Homo sapiens: one gene and its partners. Each later gene encodes a partner of the first gene's protein in a complex. Each region holds a gene or a part of one and is shown in the gene's direction. Other genes may lie near its edges.

Region 1 (5,111 bases):
TGAGCTTCTTACATCCGGTGATGGAGGGCGGTCAGGGGGTCATCATGACTCTTTGGGTCCTTGGGTATCACTGTCAGCACAGACTATGTCCAAGTTGATAACTGTAGGTCCTTTTGGTGAAGGACGGGGGGAGTCAGTTACATACGCTTTCCTTCAGTAAATGCGTTCCAGGTCTGAAAACTGGTTCAGGTCCAGAAACTGGGGCAATGTTCAGGACTTTGCATTAGAGCAGCTGCCTTCAGCCTCAGGAATCATCTGTAGTTAATTTCTCATGACTGTGTAATTCAGAAGTAGCCTTGTCCGCTGCCCTTGTGTCTTCCCTTTGGAAACACTGTGTTCTAGTCATCAACTCTGTTGCTTTCTGTAGGTCAGACACTCCCGACTGCCACTCCAGCCTTGCCATTAGTTATGATGGTTGCACCCACCTTGGCTTCTGTTTAACACCCCAGCCTGGTCTCTGCTTCATAATTCTTTCATCTCCATTTCTGTCAGGGCATCCTGCTCTATAAAGATGTAACTGTGGCTTCCTTGTGGCTTTGGTACACAGTGTCCTCCTGTCCCTCCTAAGAACATAGTCAGCTGGTGGGTTTTCGGGCTTTATATCTTATATCTATGGTAGCATCCCCATTCTTGGAGGCTGTTGAGCCTTTCGTCCAGTTTGCCATGGCTGTTCTGTCACTTTTACTTAATGTGGACCATCACTGTCTCGAAGTTTCCAGGAGCAGACCTAGCCAGCTGCATATCAGTTCCCAGGGTGCTTGCCTGGTTGCTAAATTCATCACAGGAGCGTGCCCCATGCTGATCAACTCTCAGCTGGTTTTGTGTTCTGTGCCCTTGACACACCACCCTTAAGAAGCAGTGGTGTCTATGTTCCCCCCCCCCCCGGGGGGACCTCCAGCTCCTTCCGAGTATTGTTCTTCTCACCCTTCTCATGCCCAGTCGTGTTGTAACTTGGCCAGGAGGGGAGGTGGAGAGCCCTCCTGAGAGCAGCACGTATCTTGCTAGGCAGAAACCCCCACCCACCCCTCGCCCAGTTTCCAAGGTGGAGGAAGTGCCAACCTTTACCAGACACTGAGCTGCTGCTTCAGGGCTAGAGGGGTCAGGAGAATTGGGATTCAAGATTTTTTACAACATTGACCTCAAGGGCCCCCTACCCAGCTTTAGGTTGCCTTTCCTCCCAAATCAGGACCCTGACCTTGGTGTGGGAGGTCTCATGGGCTTGAAATGCCAAACTCCCTGAATCCCTTCCGCCCCAGACCTCACCCACGCATTTTCTATCCTCTGGGTGCAATTTGAGTCTTGTTCTGCCGGGGAGGAGGCTCCTGCCCTTGGCACTCACCTTCACTGGTGATTAGTTACACACTTCATCTCACCATCCCTCTCCATGGCCCCAGCCACAGCCGTCTGATATAAGTCCTTAAAATTGCTGATTCCTCCTAAACTCCCAGAATAACACATCAGCCAGTACATTCCCTTCCGCCAGCATTCCATCCCAGGTCCCCATTGGTGAGAGCTGCATCAGCTGCACTACAGCTCTATGACAGGTGCTGTCAGTACCCCCCTACCACCAGGGACAGGGTCCTCATTGCCAGCCAGTGGCCGGCAAGCCAGCTCCAAAATCCAAATTGAGAGCTGCTTACCACTCCTGGTAGCACCCGTTGTAGGTTGGCTTCCCAGGGAAGTGGGATTTGCGTAAGGTTTATCAGGGAGTGCTCTCAGAATACGTCTTGAGGGATGAGGGAAGCAGGACTGGGCAGAGGGAGAGGCCGAAGTGCATTTGCAGTTGGGGCCTCAGCTGCTGCTCTGGGGACTTCTGGAGCTGAGCTGGCCAGTCACTGTCCTACCTAATATGGGGGCTGAGTCTTATGCTTCTGCATCAACCAGGCATTGAATATGGGCTGGTCCAGGGAAGTGCCGTGACCTAAGTGAGGAAGCTCTCTTATGATGGAATGCCCAGAGAGGAGCTCAGCTGACAACTGTCCGCTACCAGTGCTCCCTGCAGCTGGGAGCCCCATACCACAGCACCCACTATAGGAGGGGTAGAGAATTGTGGAAGCAAATAAATGGCATGAGGGTTTTTTGCATACAAGTATTAGGTCTGATAGGGTTCAGAAAGTTAGACAGTGAGCAGCTTCCATTGGAGACAGCTATAAAGTAACAAACAGAAATTTTTCAAGTGTGTAGAATATGGAGAATATTTAGCACAGGGCTTTATATATAACAGATATACAGGAGCTGTTGTTTATCAAATAAATGGAAAAGACCTGTCAGATACCCTAAGCAAGGTAGGAATGAATTGTTGGAAGGGACAGTCAGAAGTCCAGGGTGTTGGGGCCAATGACCCGGTTTGGGTAACAAGGACAAATAAGGATACTTACTAGAACTAGTTAGTTGTTATTGTATTCTCAACCTGGGAGTTGATACATAACTGGCAGGTAATATTTATTGAAATGTATTTTGTGACACTGAGAGTGGAATGAGATGTCGTCATTGTAGGCCCCAACTCCTGAACCTTGGAAGGGAAATTGGATTTGTGACAATTGTTTGAGTCAGTCCCATGAATTACACAGATTTTGGCAGATGAGGTCTTTTTATTATTTGAATAATGTCTTCTAAGTTGGGAACCTTGCTGAAAACTTGAAGGATTGTGATACGCTAAAGACTACTTTTAAACAAGCGTTGTATTAGCTAAATACTTCTTTTAAACAATGTTGTTTATAAACATAATAGAAGCTTTTTATACAGAAGAGAAAATAACAGCAACATCTATTAAAATTTTCTTCCAAAAGTTTTTTTCTTAAAAATTTTTTAAAGATTTATATTTCAGAAGTCTGAATGGCTAATGTGGTGAATAAATTAGTCTATAAACATAATGCCAGGAGGTGACTCACTTTCTCAGCATCAGTGAAAAGCATAGTCGTAATTGTAATGTTAAGGTAGTGTAACTGTAATGTTATAGCTCTTTGCATATATATGAAGATACACATGGTAGATATACAGTAGCTGTTGGTAAGTGAAAAAATAGAAAGACTCACCTGATACGCTAAGCAAGGCAGGAATGAAATGTTGGGAGGGACAATCGGGAATCTAGGGTGATTGGGGTAATAGGGACAAATAAGCGTACTTGTATATGTATTTCTGTATAATACAAATACATTTATTTATAGCTATACATATGTATATATTCTGTCCCCTGACACTGTCTTTTTTTTTTTGGACGGAGTCTCGCTCTTTCGCCCAGGCCGTAGTGCAGTGGCGCTATCTTGGCTCACTGCAAGCTCCGCCTCCCGGGTTCACGCCATTCTCCTGCCTCAGCCTCTCGAGTAGCTGGGACTACAGGCGCCCGCCACTGCGCCCGGGTAATTTTTTGTATTTTTTGTAGAGACGGCGTTTCACCGTGTTAGCCAGGATGGTCTCGATCTCCTGACCTCGTGATCCGCCTGCCTCGGCCTCCCAAAGTGCTGGGATTACAGGCATGAGCCACCGCGCCTGGCCCCCTGACACTGTCTTGATTGAGTTTCTCTAGCTCTCAGAGTGTCTGTTTAACCCATATGCACATATTTTATTAGTGTGGGAAAACAAATGTCTGGTCTGTGCATTTTCTTCATTTTCTAAGTTTAATTCATAAATCTTTCTGGCCAACCATATTCCTACTCTGAACACAGTTCTGTTTTTATGCACCAGTCAGTGTGGGGTGGGACTGGCATTCGAGCTAGTTACTAACTGTTAAGAGTTGACACCCATTTTGGTCCATTCAGTCCCTTACCCATTTGGTTGACAAAAGCCAGCACTCTTCCTAATCTGGGAGTGTTGCCTAACCTACAGCAGTTGTGGACTGGATCACTTGTTAAAAGGATTTCTTCATCCTAAATTAAAACATAGATTCCCAAGCCCTGCTCTGAGAATTCTGCTGAGGCGCTGACACACAGGGAGTTTTCAAAACAGCTGCCCCTGAACACACACAGACCCCTTGCTTTGATCTGGAGGCTGCTTTTCTCTCGCAAGAAGTGCAAAAGCAGCAGACAAGCTTGCCTGCTCCCAGCCGGCACCCGTAACCCATTGGTGTTTTCTCTTCACAGTGAAAGAAGCCGGAAGAGATTTTACCTATTTAATAGTGGTGCTTTTTGGAATCAGCATTACAGGTTGCAAAAAACAGCAAGTATAAGCCCTTGAATATTTTTTAAACTGGACTTTTTATGTTGCCCTTGCTTCGCTTCATCTTTGTTTTCTGTGATTTCAGGTGGCTTGTTTTACACGATTTTCAAAGAACTTTTTTCTTCATCCAGTCCTAGCAAGATATATGGGAGAGCCTTAGAAAAATGCAGATCACATCCTGAGGTTAGTTCTCAAGATTGAGTTACATGAACTCTGATGAGGGGGAGAAAATGTCTGGGAGGAGGAAGTGGGCAGAATTCAAGAACCAGTTCTCACGCTAGTGAAATTCACATAATAATACATAATGGTCGAGTCATCATTACATTATTAGGTCTTTGCTCTTTAAGAGAACCCAAAAGTCAGTGTACAGATGTTTTCATGCTAATTGTACAAGACAGTCATTTTGCTGGTTGTTCATAGATACTAAATTTTTAGAATACACCAAAATATTGAACTCATGGTAAGTTTCTAGTCTTTTTAAAGCCTGATGCATGACCTCATGGTCATAATGTCATTGCTGACACTTACCGAAAATGTGTCCGTGCAAGCACTCTGCCCAGGGTCTCAGTGCATCATCTTTATTCAGTCTCACAAAAACCATTTGTGTTCGGCACTACTTTGTCTTCAGTTTGCAGAAGGGGAGACTGACACTTAAAGAGATTAAGTAACTTCACCAGGATCACTGAGCTAGTAAGTGGGGGAACCGGAACCCGAATCCACACAAATCCAAAATTTGCTTCCAAATCTAAGCTCTTAAGCACAGTCTGCCTCTACCCTTCCCTGGGAGGAGTGGACATGGGGAAGCTGCCTTGGTTCTTTGAAGGACCCTGTCAAGAAGGAAGGCTTTAGATGTGACCTTCCAGTCACACGTAGCCGGTGTGGCCTGGGAAGTGTCAGATTTCTTACTCCCTGCTGCAGACCTTCAGCACTGAAAATATTACTCATTGAAATACAAC
Region 2 (4,442 bases), on another chromosome or scaffold:
GAGTTAATTAATAATTACACCTGCCATATAGAGTTGTTATGAATAAGGAACTTAGAACCATCTTCTGGATCCTCAGGACAGAGAATTCCTTTGAGCTTAGTGGTTTAGACCAAGGGATTTGCAAACTATTTCTGTAAAAGGCCAGATAGTGAATATTTTAGGCTTTGTGGGCTGTGTGGTCTTTGTCATAGCTACCTAAATCTGCTGTCATAGCATGAAAGCAGCCATGGATAATACATAAACGAAACAGTATGGCTGTGTTTCAGTAAAACTTTATTTATTTATTTATTTTATTTTATTTCTTTTTTTTTTTTTTTTTTTTTTTTTTTTTTTGAGACTGAGTCTCACTCTGTCGCCCGAGCTGGAATGCAGTGGCGCAATCTCGGCTCACTGCAAGCTCTGCCTCCCGGGTTCAAGCGATTCTCCTGCCTCAGCCTCCCGAGTAGCTGGGACTACAGGTGTGTGCCACCACGCCTGGCTAATTTTTTGTATTTTTAGTGGAGACGGGGTTTTACCATGTTAGCCAGGATGGTCTCGATCTCCTGACCTCGTAATCCACCCACCTCGGCCTCCCAAAGTGTTGGGATTACGGGCGTGAGCCACTGCGCCCGGCCCTATTTATTTATTTATTTTCTTGAGACGGAGTCTTACTCTGTCACCCAGGCTGGAGTGCAGTGGCACAATCTCGGCTCACTGCAACCTCTGCTTCCTGGGTTCAAGCAATTCTCCTGCCTCAGCCTCCTGAGAAGCTGGGACTACAGGTGCCCGCCACCACGTCAAGCTAATTTTTGTATTTTTAGTAGAGACGGGGTTTCCCCATGTTGGCCAGGCTGGTCTCGAACTCCTGACCTCATGATCTGCCTGCCTCAGCCTCCCAAAGTGCTGGGATTTATGGCCTTTCAGTAAAACTTTATTTACAAAAATAGGCAGTGGGTGGACTGTGGGTGGCTGTAGTTTACTGACTCTGGGTCTTAGGCAATAAGAAAGAGTTTGGGAGTTGGGGGAGCATGTCACCATATGGACAGTTCTCTTCTTTACTATCTCTTACAGTAAACTAGATTTCTGTAAAAAATAATCTCTTTGTTATTAATGTCTTCAGATGGACCAGTGGCCATGGTTGGGTCAGCCGCAATGGGTGGCATTCTCCTAGCTTTAATTGAAGGAGCTGGTATCTTGTTGACAAGATTTGCCTCTGCACAGTTTCCCAATGGTGAGTCTTTTTGCTTAAAACTATAGCTCAAACATTTTGGAATGGTTTTCTGATGTTAAGAAAGAACATACTTTGTGTGATAAAATGTGTGGTATGTATTAATATGCTGTGGTTCATGAGGACTGTGATAATAGGTAAAAAATGAACATGTTATATTTAGCCACAAAAACAAAAATTTTTTGTATAAATTTGCTGTTGATCTTTCTTTATAGTACTTAGGGTTTATCAGTGCTCATGTCTTGCAAGAAATGTCTGATCATTTTAAAGGGACTTGAAGAATGGTTCTGCAGATGTATAACAATCATGATGGTCAATTGACAATTTAGTATTGTACATCTACATGCCAGACACTGTTTTAGGTAGTGAACAGGACAGTTCCTGCCCTCAAGGACTTACATTCTGGTAGGGGGAGACAGACTAACACATTAACAGATAAATTAGCTTATTTTAGATAGTGTTGCTTGTTTTGAAGAAGAGAATAGTGGAAAGTGACTCATATTTGGGAAGGTCACTTTAGGGTTCACAGTAGAAGTATCTTAGAAAATGTGTTAGCCCGGCTAATTTTTATATTGGTTTAATTTGTTGCCTGTTGTTCCTCCTATATGATGCATAGGGTAATAATTAAATTGTGGGCTGAATGATCATTACATGGTTATAGAATGTGCTCTCAGCTGATTAGCCAGGCATAATGGCTCACACCTATAGTCCTAGCTACTCAGGAGGCACGAGAATCAGTTGAACCTGGGAGGTGGAGGTTGCAGTGAGCCGAGATCACACCACTGCACTCTAGGCTGGTCGATGGAGCGAGACTCTGTCTCAAAATGAAACAAACAGAAAACTTCTATCAAGATGGTGCATTCCTGTAGTTCCAGCTACTCAGGAGGCCACTCACTTGACCCCAGGAGTTCAAGGCCAGCCTGGGCAACAGAGCAAGACCCCATCTCTTAAAAAAAAATTTCAGTGTCTAAATGAAAATATCCCTTGACAATGGAAGGATGCAAAAAGATATTGTGAGGTGGCCGGGCACGGTGGCTCACACCTGTAATCCCAGCATTTTGGGAGACTGAGGCAGGTGGATCACTTGAGGTCAGGAGTTTTGAGAGCAGCCTGGCCAACGTGGTGAAACCCCGTCTCTACTAAAAATACAAATTAGCAGGGCATGGTGGCACACGCCTGTAATCGCAGCTCCTTGGGAGGCTGAGGTACAAGAATCACTTGAACCTGGGAGGCAGAGATTGCAGTGAGCTGAGATCACACCATTGCACTCCAGCCTGGGCAACAGAGCAAGACTCCATCTCAAAAAATATATATATATATAACATATATATGTTATATATATGCTATATATGTTATATATTATATATGTTATATAATATGTATGTTATATGTTGTATATATGTTATGTATTATATATGTTATATATTATATATGTTGTATATTATATATGTTGTGTGTGTGTGTGTGTGTGTGTGTATATATATATAGTGAGGATAGTAGTAGTGAAAATTTGACCTGGCATTTGGGAAGGAAAAAAATACGTAGAATAGTGAGACATGTTGAAAATTATTTTTGGAGCTTGGAAAAGATTCAGCATAAAGTTAGGAATAGATCATACATCCCAATTTGCTTTGATTTCCCTGAGGCACCTAGCAAGAGATTCAGTATCTTTTTGGCACAATTTTCAAGTGCACTGCTCGTTAAATGGCAGTGAGTAATCTAGATGACCCTGCAGACCCTCTCACCTTCTGTTTGTTTTTCATTCCTTACTTCTGAGTTAACACTCTGTAGTGATGGTCACTTTCCAATTTTGTTTTGACTGCTTCAGTGTGAAAGACTTTACATAAAACATCAAAACAGTTCCATATTCACAGAAATTCAGAAATGGATATAGTTAACTTAAATAGTTACATTGTCTCATAGAAATTAGCCTTGAGTACTTTGTTTTAGGCTTTTTTCCTCAGAGGGAATCTCCTTTTTATTTATTTATTTTATTTATTTATTTATTTATTTTAATTTTTTTTGAAACAGAATCTCTGTGACCCCGGCTGGAGTGCAGTGGTGCAATCTCGGCTCACTGCAGCCTTGACCTCCTGGGCTCAGGCGATCCTCCCACCTCAGCCTCTTGAGCAGCTGGGACTATAGGTGTGCACCGCTATGCCCGGCTAATTTTTATATTTTTTGTAGAGATGAGGTCTCTGCCCAGGCTGATCCTAAACTCCTGGGCTCAAGCGATCCTCCCTGCCTCGGCCTCCCAAAGTGCTGGGATTACAGGGGTGAGCCACCGTGCCCAGCTGGAATCTCCTTTTTAGTAATTAAAACTCAGCATTTATATAGAAGCAGCCTAAAAGAGGTGTATTTATTTTTAGACAAGAGATGTGTTTCTGAAAAGCTGTGTAGGGGGGAAATCTTTGAAAACTTAATCATATTTTTCCAGTGAACTTACATGAAAAAGTTTGTCTTGTTTTGTTTTTGAGACAGAGTCTCGGTCTGTCGCCCAGGCTGGATTGCAGTGGTGCAATCTCAGCTTACTGCACCCTCCGCCTCCGGGGTGCAAGCGATTCTTCTGTCTCAGCCTCCTGAGTAGCTGGGACTACAGGTGCGCAACATCACACCTGGCTCATTTTTTTTTTGTATTTTTTAGTAGAGATGCAGTTTCACCATATTGGTCAGGCTGGTCTCGAACTCCTGACCTCGTGATCCGCCCGCCTTGACCTCCCAAAGTGCTGGGAATGTGAGCCATCGCGCCCAGCAAAAAAGTTTTTAAAACAGTGAAAAAAGGTTAGACAGAACTGTATGTAAATGGCAACAGTGGTTTTCATCGGCTTATCTTTTTTTGGGGTTTTTTTGTTTTTGTTTGTTTTTTTTTTTTTAGACAGACTTGCTCTGTCTCGCAGGCTGGAGTGCAATGGCGCGATCTCTTCTCACTGCAACCTCCACCTCCCAGGTTCAAGTGATTCTCCTGCCTCAGCTCCTGAGTAGTTGGGATTACAGACACCCTCCACCATGCCCAGCTAATTTTCATATTTTCAGTAGAGACGGGGTTTCGCCATGTTGTCCTGACCTCAGGTGATCTGCCCGCCTCAACCTCCCAAAGTGCTGAGATTACAGGCGAGAGCCACCGCACCCGGCCCCAGCTTATCTTTTTTACCCAGTATCTTCTCAAGTTTTCTGTAATTAACAGATAGTTGCATTTATAGTGAAGTAAAAATATATGAGTGAAACACTTTGAAAA
Region 3 (5,111 bases), on another chromosome or scaffold:
AACATTTAATGTAAATTAAAAGATGGAACTGATTTAAATTGGATTTGTTTCAGAATTCCATTTTGGAAATCAGTTGGCAGTATTAGCAACATCACTATTATATGAATATATGCTAATGTAGAATGAAAGAAAGGTCCTCATTAAAATCTTGTTGCTAAACAAGTGACAAAAACCTTGCAGACAGCTTAAGGCTTCAGGTCAGTCATATTTACTCCTGAAGATATTTGGACAAGTGTGAAAGTATATAGACTATGCCTTTATTGTGATCAGAACACATAAATGCTAGTTTGTACCAGTTCCCTACCAAGGACATTTTTACTAATATTAGACAAAACAAGTCTTAATGCAATGCCTAAGCATCCTATTTATCTAAGTAAGTTAAAATATTGGGTTTGTTAAATCAGAAAGTAAGCATTTGCTAACAGCCGTTGTGTCTGTGTTTTCCGGAAAAGGACTGAGGTTTGGTCAACTAGTGTGTTTTCATGAGACAAAATTCATGATCTAATTACCTTTCTACCAAATATTATTTGGGTGAACTGGTCTGGTATAGGTATAGTAAGGTGACAGTAAAGGTAAGGTGGTGCAGGGGAATCCAGCCCATGGTTCATTACCACTATTGAACATGGCAGTTCTCTTAAAGAAGCCTTTAGCTAGCTTTAGCTAATTCCGGATTAACTTTATATACATATTGTTTGAGGATTGCCCATGTCTTTTTATTTGGGATCGTAGTCTTTGCTTATGTAAAGGTAGATCTTAACATCATGCTATAAATAGAAAAATTAACGTATAGGAATAGATAGGCATTCCAGAGTGAAAGTTAGTTGACTTTTAGATAGCCATGTGGCTACCCTTCAGCGTCTCCACTGAAAATGAGCTGGCTATAAGTCTGCTTTGCCTTTTGAGTGTTAGAGAGTCCTTAGTCAAAGGGCACAAAGAATTTCCCTTGGTTTGATTTGACCTGTGTGGCCAGCTCATCTGCGTCAAGAGGAACAAGAACATTTGCAGTTGGAATAAAGAAGATACTTGATTACGTTTAGAGTCTAACAGGCTGGGTTGGGAATGAGAGAGCAAATGTTGGGACTGCTGAGACTAGTGAAGCAGAAGCCAAAGGGAACTAATCCTGTGTGTCCTTGAAGGGGAATACTATGTATCACTCACTTCATGTGATCACACACATTAAATTATTTGAATTAAAGTCATTTCTTGCATCCCTTGTTCCTTCTTCCTATTCCACCAATTTTCTTGGAAGTATCACTATGATGTTGTGAGTGGATACAGGTATCTATGCTATAGGGCTCTTGTCCCAGCAAGGCCCCCCTAATGAATTTTTTATGCATTTAATAAATCTCATTTTTGGTTGCTTGTGGTTTAAAAATATTTTTGTTACATAATTATGTATTTTCATGGACACTCCTAAGATTATCTGTCTAAGACAATTATAAATAATTTATAATCCCAAGTACCTGGAAGGATAACACATAGCTCAAGAAAAGAGAGGAATCTTGATTATTTTGTATTTTCAAAGTTACAAAAGATATTGAGAAAACACAATACACAATTTATTTTTATTTTCATTTTTTTGCCTACAGCTTCTTTGTAAGGACGATGTTTAAGATCTCACTTGGAAATAGTTGCTTACTTACAGTAGATGAGGGGTGGCAGAGTCTGGAACTAGGGCAGCCAGTGGTCAGAAGGAGGGACCAGAGTAGTTCATGAGAGTAGCTGCAAGAGATGAGGAGCAAAGCATATTGTCCTGTGTAAGGGATAAGACAGGACTGAGTCTGACCCAAAGCAAACACAAGACAGAGTAGTAAGTGGCCCACCTGTGGGTAGCATAGGTACCAGGCTTTTCTGGGTTTGTGGTCCTGAAAAGGCAGAATACCCAAGGTGCCAGTACAATTTAAAGAGCAAACTAGCAGAGTGGAAATTTGACAGAAAGCCATTTGAAGTATCTACAGCACCTAGAACTTACTTGGGAATGAAATGGGGGTCCTGTTATTAGAAGTTAAGAAACCATGGCAGGGTTGTGTAAAAGCAAAGGGATGCCTTGCTGCCATCAGGTGGGAATCCACCGGCTTTTGTTGCCAGGTACTAAGAAGACATGCAGAGACTAGACAACAGATACCAATGTCTGGAAACAATTCCCTTTCAAAGGAAGAGTCAACTCTTTGTATTTCTCCTAGAATATACAGTCGTGCACTGCATGACAGTGTTTAGGTCAATGACAGACTACATATATGATGGTGGTTCCATAAGATGATAATGGTGTATTTTTACTGTACCTTTTCTATGTTTAGAAATGTTTAGATATACAAGTACTTACCTTTCTGTTATAATTGCCTGCAGTATTCAGTACAGTAACATATGGTACAGGTTTTAGCCTAGGCTATACAAAATAGCCTAGATATCTACTCAGCTGTACCATCTAGGTTTGTGTAAGTACACTCTGATCTTTGGACCACGATGAAATTGCCAAATGATGCATTTCTCAGAATGTATCCTCATTGTTAAGCAGCCCATGATTGTACTGTTTCTCTACTAGAAATCCTATCTCTACATCCTGTCTCTATGAAGTCTCCTTGCCCTTCATCTCAGAAGTCCTCTCTCCCTCTTCTCAAATCACATTTATTTATACAAAGTGAATATCACTCATCTTATTCTGCCTTTTACTGGTGTACATGTCTTTTGTTGAGCACGGTACCATGTGCCAAGCACAATGTACATAATAGATGTTCAAGGCTGCAGTGAGCTATAATCATGCCACTGCACTCCAGCCTGGGTGACAGGCTTTCTTTTTTTTTTTCTAAAAAGAAGAAAATTGTGTGTGTGGGTATTTATATAGATATAATTACAAGTAATTTTTTCCTTCCAAATTTATTTCAGATTTTACCAAATGTTGCAAGAACTCTGGAGTTCTTATGGTAGTAAAATGCCGGAAAGAAAATTCTGCATTGAAAGAATGTCTAACTGCTTAGTAAGTAGTTGTCTCAGCGTTTGTGCTTGTATGTGTATTTGTGGTAGATAAGAGTATGTTACTTAACTCATTACATGTAATATATTCTGTACCTCTCCATACCAAATTTATCATATTGTTGGCTGAGTCTAAAGTTCCAGTACAGTCTTAAAAATGCAACATATTTATGAAAGAGTCTTTTCAAATTTTCTCAGCATTGTATCTGATTAAAAAGATGAAGTCAGCAGACAAAAATATATGATTTTTCACTATTTAATAAATCTTTTTTCATGAACAGTTTGATCTGTAAAATATAGTACAGACTGATTTTTGTTTATTCTGTTGTAAAGATAACTGAATGAAAATATCTCTGAGACTTCCTCCAGCCTTGTGATTTGTTGGATTAATATAATTTAACTCCTAGAAAGTTGAGATAAATCGTATGGATGATAAAAAGGTAAATTTAGATTTTTGAAGTTAACCAAATTTACTTTTAAAATAATTTTATAATATCGTGTTCACTAATATTTTGTTGTAGTTCCTTAAATTTAAGTAAAAATGTGTGAAGTTCTTTGAATTCACATGCTGATTTATTCACCCATGTTCTATTGCCCACATTATTGACAGATAAGATTGCAGAATACTTTAGTAAGTATTGTTAATTGAATGTTGAGAGATCTTAGTTTTGGTAAGCCTTTGTTTCCTTTAATTTCTGTAGCCTGTGCAGCGTATATGTCAGTATGGTATGTATCTTAGAGGATTAAATAAAAATGTAATGAACACCCGAACCCTACATTTTTTTTTAAATAAAATATGTACACATAAACTTATAGACCTTTTTTTAGAATGGTGGAGTTGGAAAAGACTTTAGAGATTATGTAAACTCATCTCTATATTTGCTATATTTGTAAATGATGAAACATAATCAATATTGATTTTTTTTCTTAAGTTAATAATATCAAAGCAGCCCTTATTTATGGTCCAGGTATTGTACTCAGTGCTTTACCATATAGGAGTAAAAGTTCATTCTGTGACTTAATATTCTTTCAGTTCTATTCTCAAGTGCTTCCAAGAAATGTTTACTGAGTAAACGAATCTCTTAAACTTTTGTATGACTGAATTATTAAATTCTGTCTTATACATTGATTAAATAATTTTTATATCTCAGATTCAGTCATCATAATTGTTATTGCTAGTTTGACATATTATCCTTCACTCCAGTTGGGGGAGCTCTAGAGCAGAGTAGACAGGAGTATAGACTGCAGAGAGGGCAACCTGGGTTCAGCTTCTGTATCAGTGAGAGCTTAGCTAGTCGTGTTACCTTAGGCAGGCTCCTCATTGTAAGAAGGAATAATTATATCTTATGGAGTGATTGTGAGGTACTGCATGTAAACACATTTACCATGATAGGTATTCAGAAAATGTTAGCTCTTTTTTGATTAGTATTTGTTATTATTTATCTGAATATTAATCATTTGAATATCCTTCCCTCTCTCACCCCCTAGAAATACAAGAAGAAAATAACAGATTCTAGTCCATCTGAGGGGAGGAGAGGGGCTAGGAAGGATGGCTGTTTCTGCTTGTTTAGAAGAGATAAGCAGTGGATGTGACATTAACTGAAAGTAAATGGAAAATTATTAGGGAAAATTGTACTTGACTTTGAGTCCCCAGATACACTAAGAAATAGTATTTATTCATCTTTAAATAAGAAGGTGTTCTGCTTTGTTAATTACTATTGACATTTCCATGAAATGAACGTAACTGCTATCCTCTCTCATTTTGAAACATTGTTTTTGCTCCTTTATTTCTACCTCTTACTTTCATTTTTTTCCTTAATACACTATGATCTGATTTCTGTCCTCACATCACTGAACCTGCTCTTTTTAAAGACTCTGATGGGCTGATGGTAGACAAATCCAACAAATTGTTCCTTTTCTTTTACTGGACCTGTCTCTGGCAATCCCTTCTTAAAAGTCTCCTCTGTCTTCCCTGATAATATTTTTTCCCATTTTCCCAAAATCTCTTTGTACTTCTCCATGTTTTTAATCTACTCCTTAATGTTGGTGATTCCCCAAGTTCTCTTCTCATTCTTAAATCTGAGGAAGTTTAGTTTGCACCCATGAATTCAATTACTTACTATAGAAAGTAACATTTGTTT
Region 4 (5,111 bases), on another chromosome or scaffold:
TCAGGAGTTCGAGACCAGCCTGGCCAACATGGTGAAACCCCATCTCTACTAAAAAACAAAAATTAGCCAGGCGTGGTGCTGGGCGCCTGTAATCCCAGCTACTTGGGAGGCTGAGGCAGGAGAATCACTTGAACCTGGGAGGCAGAGGTTGCGGTGAGCCAAGATCGCGCCACCCGCACTTCAGCCTGGGCAACAGAGTAAGACTCGGTCTCAAAAAAAAAATAAAAAAATAAATAAAGAATGGAAAAAGTCCTGGCGCAGTGGCTCGTGCCTATACTCCCAACACTTTTAAGAGGCTGAGGCGGGAGGATCACTTGAGCCCAGGAGTTTGAGACCTGCCTGGCCAACATAAGAAGATCCCATCTCTCCAAAAAAATACAAAAATTAGCCGGGTGTGGTGGTGTGCACCTGTAGTCCCAGCTACTAGGGAGGCTGAGGTGGGAGGATCACTTGAGTCCAGCAGGTCAAGTCTCAGCATAATCAAACCACTTAACTCCAGCCTGGGTGACAGAGAGAGACTTTGTCTCAAAAGGAAAAAAATTGGGAAAAGACAATCCACAGACTGAGAGAAAATATTTGCATATTATGTATCTGATAAGGAATTTATATCTAGAATATTTAATTTTTTTAACTCTTGAAACATTAATAAAAAATAATTACAAAATGGGCAAAGGATTTGAGTAGACATTTCTCTATGAAGATATACAGATGTCTAATAATGACATGAAAGCTGGTCAGTAACATTAATTAGAGAAATAAAACCACAATGAGATACCTCTTTACACCCACGGGGATCACTATAATCAAAAAGAAAATAATGAGTATTGTTGAGGATGTAGAGAAATTGGACCTCTGTACATTGCTGGTGGGAATGTAAAATGATACAGCTGCTTTTAGAAACAGTCTGGCAGTTTCTCAAAGTGTTAAAAATAGAGTTACCTTATGACTGGCAATTTCACTTGCGTATACTCCATACTCAAGAGAATTGAAAACCTCTGTGCACATAAGTTGTAAATGAATGTTGCTAGTAGCATTATTCATAATAACCAAAAAATGGAAACAAACCAAATGTTTATCCACTGATGAATGGATAAAAAAGTGTGGCATATCCATACAATGGAATATTATTTGGTAATAAAAAAAGAATTATTAAATTGTGCTACAATATAAATGAACCTTTAAAACTTCCTAAATGAAAGAAACCAGTCACAAGAGACCACATATTGTGTGGTTCCATTTATATGGAATGTCCAGAATAGGCAAATATATGGACAAGAAAGTAGATTAGTAGCTGCCAAGGGTTAGGAGTAAATGGGCAGTGACTGCTAATGGGTATGTGATTTTTTTGGGGGGTGATGAAGATGCTTTAAAATTTATTGTAGTCTTGGTTGCACGACTCTGAATATACTAAAAACCACTGAATTGTACGCTCTAAGTAAGTGGATTGTGTGATACATGAGATACAGATCAGTAACTCCATTTTCTCTCTCTCTTTTTTTTCTAAGAGACAAAGTCTCCCAGACTGGAGTTGCAGTAGCAGCATCATAGCTCACTGTAACCTCAAACTCCTAGGCTCAAGCGGTCCTTCTGCCTCATCCTCCCAGATAGCTAGGGCTGCAGATGAACACCACCATGCCTGGCTAATTCTTTTTTTTTTTACATTCTTTGTAGAGATGTGATCTGACTTGGTTGCCCAGGCTGGTCTCTTAACTCCTGGCCTCAAGTGGTCCTTCTGCCTTGGCCTCCCAAAGTGCTGGAATTACAGGCATGAGCCACCATGCCTGGCCTTTTTTTTTTTTTTTTTTTTTTTTTTTAAGCATTATGGTTGGAACCTTTTATTTCACAGTTGAATCACTAACGGCATCTGACAGCTGCTGCATTTCTTGTTTGCGTTAAGTGTTCAAATTGAAGCAAGTTGATGGTTCGGACCTTGCCAATTTAAAGCTTCATTATTTTTGAAATGTTTTTCAAATGTTATATTTTAACATTGGGTGTTCATTGATTTTTTTACTTTAAAAGTACTCCTTTGTCAGTTTACTCAAAATTTCAAAACTAGCTGCATGTATTTTGCTTTAATGTTGAATCTACACTTAGAGGTTGTACTCTAGATCTAGTTAAAATTCAATATCATTGTGGCCCTGCATTGCTAGGTGGGGCTTATTAAGGTTAGACATAAAATATTTCATATCCCCCCAAAAACTTGTGAATTCATTCTTCATCATGAACATTTAATCTTCCATTGGAATTCTAGAGGGACTTCAGACTTTAAAAAGTGTTTTATAAACCTCATCTGTTATTGGAAATAATTCTGGAGACCTTAAATTTAAAGATAATAGAAATTACATTTTGTAAAACTTTTATTTATACTTTTGAAGGTTAGAGACATCTTAAAGAAAATAGTACCTGTCAACTCACCATGTCGTGACTTTGGCAACAACTTTTTTTTTTTCTTGTTTAATAGTAGACACAGGGTCTCACTGTGTTGTCCAGGCTGGTCTGGAACTCCTGGGTTCAAGCAGTCCTCCCACCTTGGCCTCCCAAAGTGCTGGGATTACAAGCGTGAGCTACTGTGCCTAGCCAACTTTTATCTGATACAGTATTGTAGTTTCTCTTACTAATGCTTTTGTATTGTCACTACTCTTGTATCCTTATTGATTTTTTTTTTTAAATTGTGTCAAGTAATAAATTTTTTTGTTAGCCCAGGTGAACATCTGGTACAAAAATAAGGAAAATTTAAATATTTTTAACATCCATAGTGTTAAACACGCAAAATTATAAATTAAAAAAGTTTTTTCTTTTCCCCCAGCAAGTACATTGATACCCATTCTTGGATTTATCTTCCATGTCAGCAAGCTCTGGTACTTGGGATTTTAGTAATACTAGTGTCCTGGAGTGTCAGCAGAACAGGTTTAACAAGAGGTTTTTAGTAAATCTTCTATACATTCAATATATTAACATACTTTGATAACAACCTTGTTTGTGTGTGAATTGATGGACGTTTGCTTGCAACCCTTGTTATATTTTTCAGTTGATACTAGCAGGAGAATGAGTTGGTGCTAACGTGCACTTTTGCTTGCTTGATAATGTTCATCACAGCCTTTTTTTTTTTTTTAAGTTTTCTTTTCTTTTTTTTTTTTGGAGATGGAGTCTCGCTCTGTCACCCAGGCTGGAGTGCAGTGGCGTGATCTCAGCTCACTGCAACCTCCACCCCCGGGTTCAAGCAATTCTCCTGCCTCAGCCTCCCAAGTAGCTGGGACTACAGGCGCACACTGCCACGCCCAGCTAATTTTTTGTATTTTAGTAGAGACGGGGTTTCACCATGTTGCCCAGGGTGGCCTCGAACTCCTGAGCTCTGGCAGTCCACCCGACTCGGCTTCCCAAAGCGCTGAGATTACAGGCGGGAGGCACCGTGCCTGGCCAAGTTTTCTATTCTTAATTAGTAATCTGTTTCTGTATTGAAGGATAATTTTTTTTTTCTTCTCAGCAACCATGGCCTGAGACTGAAGAATAATTATTTACCTTACCACATTGAATCTAGCATTTCTAAAAACTCAAACAAAAAGCAGTTTAATACTAAGTCATTATTTAAAAGTTGAAGTACCCAAAATTTATAAAACTCTATACAATTATATTATGACATGGGATCTATTCAGATTTTATTATTGCCCAACAGACCATTCTTATGTGATGAGAGTGGATGTGTTTGTTTACTTTTGCAATTTTTGGTGAGGATGTGTGCACATGCCAGAAAGAAAAAACCAAGGCAGAACCACAGTTTTCTGATTAGGAATACAATTTTCTGAATCAACGTTCAGTATTTGCCACAAGGATGTAGGAGAATGTTAATTGTCAGTGGTCTTTACTATGTTAAATGTAACACACTATGTGTCTTTTTGCCAAGGGTGTGACCTAGCCATTAGAGGCTTATTTTAACCATCTTTGGTTGGAAAGCTTGCCAAAAATGAGTGTGATTTTATTTTTTTAATCCAACATGGTGATAAAATTTTGTTTGTTTTTTTGAGTGTGTTTTTCATAAAGGTGCATTGACTCTTCAAAATTGGTAACCATATTTTGCTCTTAAGAGTGTCATTTCTCAGTCTTAGTATTTTGGATGACCTTCCAGGGGTTCATGCCACATTTTGTGTATGCAATTACTAGAAATAGGGTCTATAGCTTTCTGAGAGTATCAAAGGAATATATACTCCTTAAACAGATAAGAATTATTAAAGGGGGTCATTTGCCCTTGCATAATTGATCCAAACTGTTGTACTTTATTAGTTTTTGCTCATGTTTGTGAACATTTGGCTTTATACATAGAAAAATGCACAATAAATAGCTGCTACAGAATGAAAGTTATTTGTTTCTTCCAGACTGATTGTCTGTTCTGTTCTTCTCATAGCTTTCAGTGTTCCTTTCTCTAGAGCTGTCCTTTCTAAACACTTTTGCACAAATCTATCAGATTTACGTTTTGAAGGAAACAAAGTCTTTAATGAGACTCCCTTCTAAGAACTATGTTTCGTATTTCATTTCACTTTGATTTAGGTGTTACTGCTGCAGAAAGTTTTATTTTTGTTTAAGTATAGGTTTGAGTTAATTTAAGGTTTATTTTCTGTGAAAAACTACTTTGAAATGTTAAAAAGGCAACTTTACAAGATTTGTGTCTTGAGGGACACTCAGCTTGGTTTTCATTATTATCCTTTTAGGATACAGATGAGTTTATTTTACCTACCGGAGCTAATAAAACCCGGGGCAGATTTGAGCTGGCCTTCTTTACGATTGGAGGATGTTGCATGACAGGTGAGTGTTACATACTTTTTTCTCAAGAGTGCTCAGTTCAAGTAGTTGAGGGTGCGTAAAATCAAAAGCAATTAGAATGTTGGTTTCAGGGTTTTTTTTTTAATATTTACATTTGTCTTTTTCTATTAAATAAAAATGAAAAAGAATCAGAAGTGTAGTTATGCAGATTTGAGTTTGTTTTTTTAATATAAAGCTGTCTTTATCTGGGTGAATTGTTATGATTTACCAGGGGCTGCGTTTGGTGCAATGAATGGTCTTCGGCTAGGATTGAAGGAAACCCAGAACATGGCCTGGTCCAAACCAAGAAATGTACA

The links. Proteins that work in one complex are often made in the same cells at the same time.
Region 2: TIMM21 (region 1) and TIMM17A share a complex: the UniProt entries of both Homo sapiens proteins name them as parts of the TIM23 complex.
Region 3: TIMM21 (region 1) and CMC1 share a complex: the UniProt entries of both Homo sapiens proteins name them as parts of the MITRAC (mitochondrial translation regulation assembly intermediate of cytochrome c oxidase complex) complex.
Region 4: TIMM21 (region 1) and TIMM23 share a complex: the UniProt entries of both Homo sapiens proteins name them as parts of the TIM23 complex.

The regions. Positions count from the first base shown.
Region 1 is NC_000018.10:74,151,066-74,156,176, forward strand, and holds part of TIMM21 (mitochondrial import inner membrane translocase subunit Tim21 precursor), read left to right. Parts: intron 1-4,079; coding exon 4,080-4,142; coding exon of another isoform or gene 4,143-4,159; intron 4,160-4,240; coding exon 4,241-4,338; intron 4,339-5,111. UniProt on the Homo sapiens protein: Participates in the translocation of transit peptide-containing proteins across the mitochondrial inner membrane.
Region 2 is NC_000001.11:201,964,334-201,968,775, forward strand, and holds part of TIMM17A (mitochondrial import inner membrane translocase subunit Tim17-A), read left to right. Parts: intron 1-1,099; coding exon 1,100-1,210; intron 1,211-4,442. UniProt on the Homo sapiens protein: Essential component of the TIM23 complex, a complex that mediates the translocation of transit peptide-containing proteins across the mitochondrial inner membrane.
Region 3 is NC_000003.12:28,313,450-28,318,560, forward strand, and holds part of CMC1 (COX assembly mitochondrial protein homolog), read left to right. Parts: intron 1-2,883; coding exon 2,884-2,974; intron 2,975-3,303; exon of another isoform or gene 3,304-3,410; intron 3,411-5,111. UniProt on the Homo sapiens protein: Component of the MITRAC (mitochondrial translation regulation assembly intermediate of cytochrome c oxidase complex) complex, that regulates cytochrome c oxidase assembly.
Region 4 is NC_000010.11:45,977,820-45,982,930, forward strand, and holds part of TIMM23 (mitochondrial import inner membrane translocase subunit Tim23), read left to right. Parts: intron 1-4,703; coding exon 4,704-4,797; intron 4,798-5,026; coding exon 5,027-5,111. UniProt on the Homo sapiens protein: Essential component of the TIM23 complex, a complex that mediates the translocation of transit peptide-containing proteins across the mitochondrial inner membrane.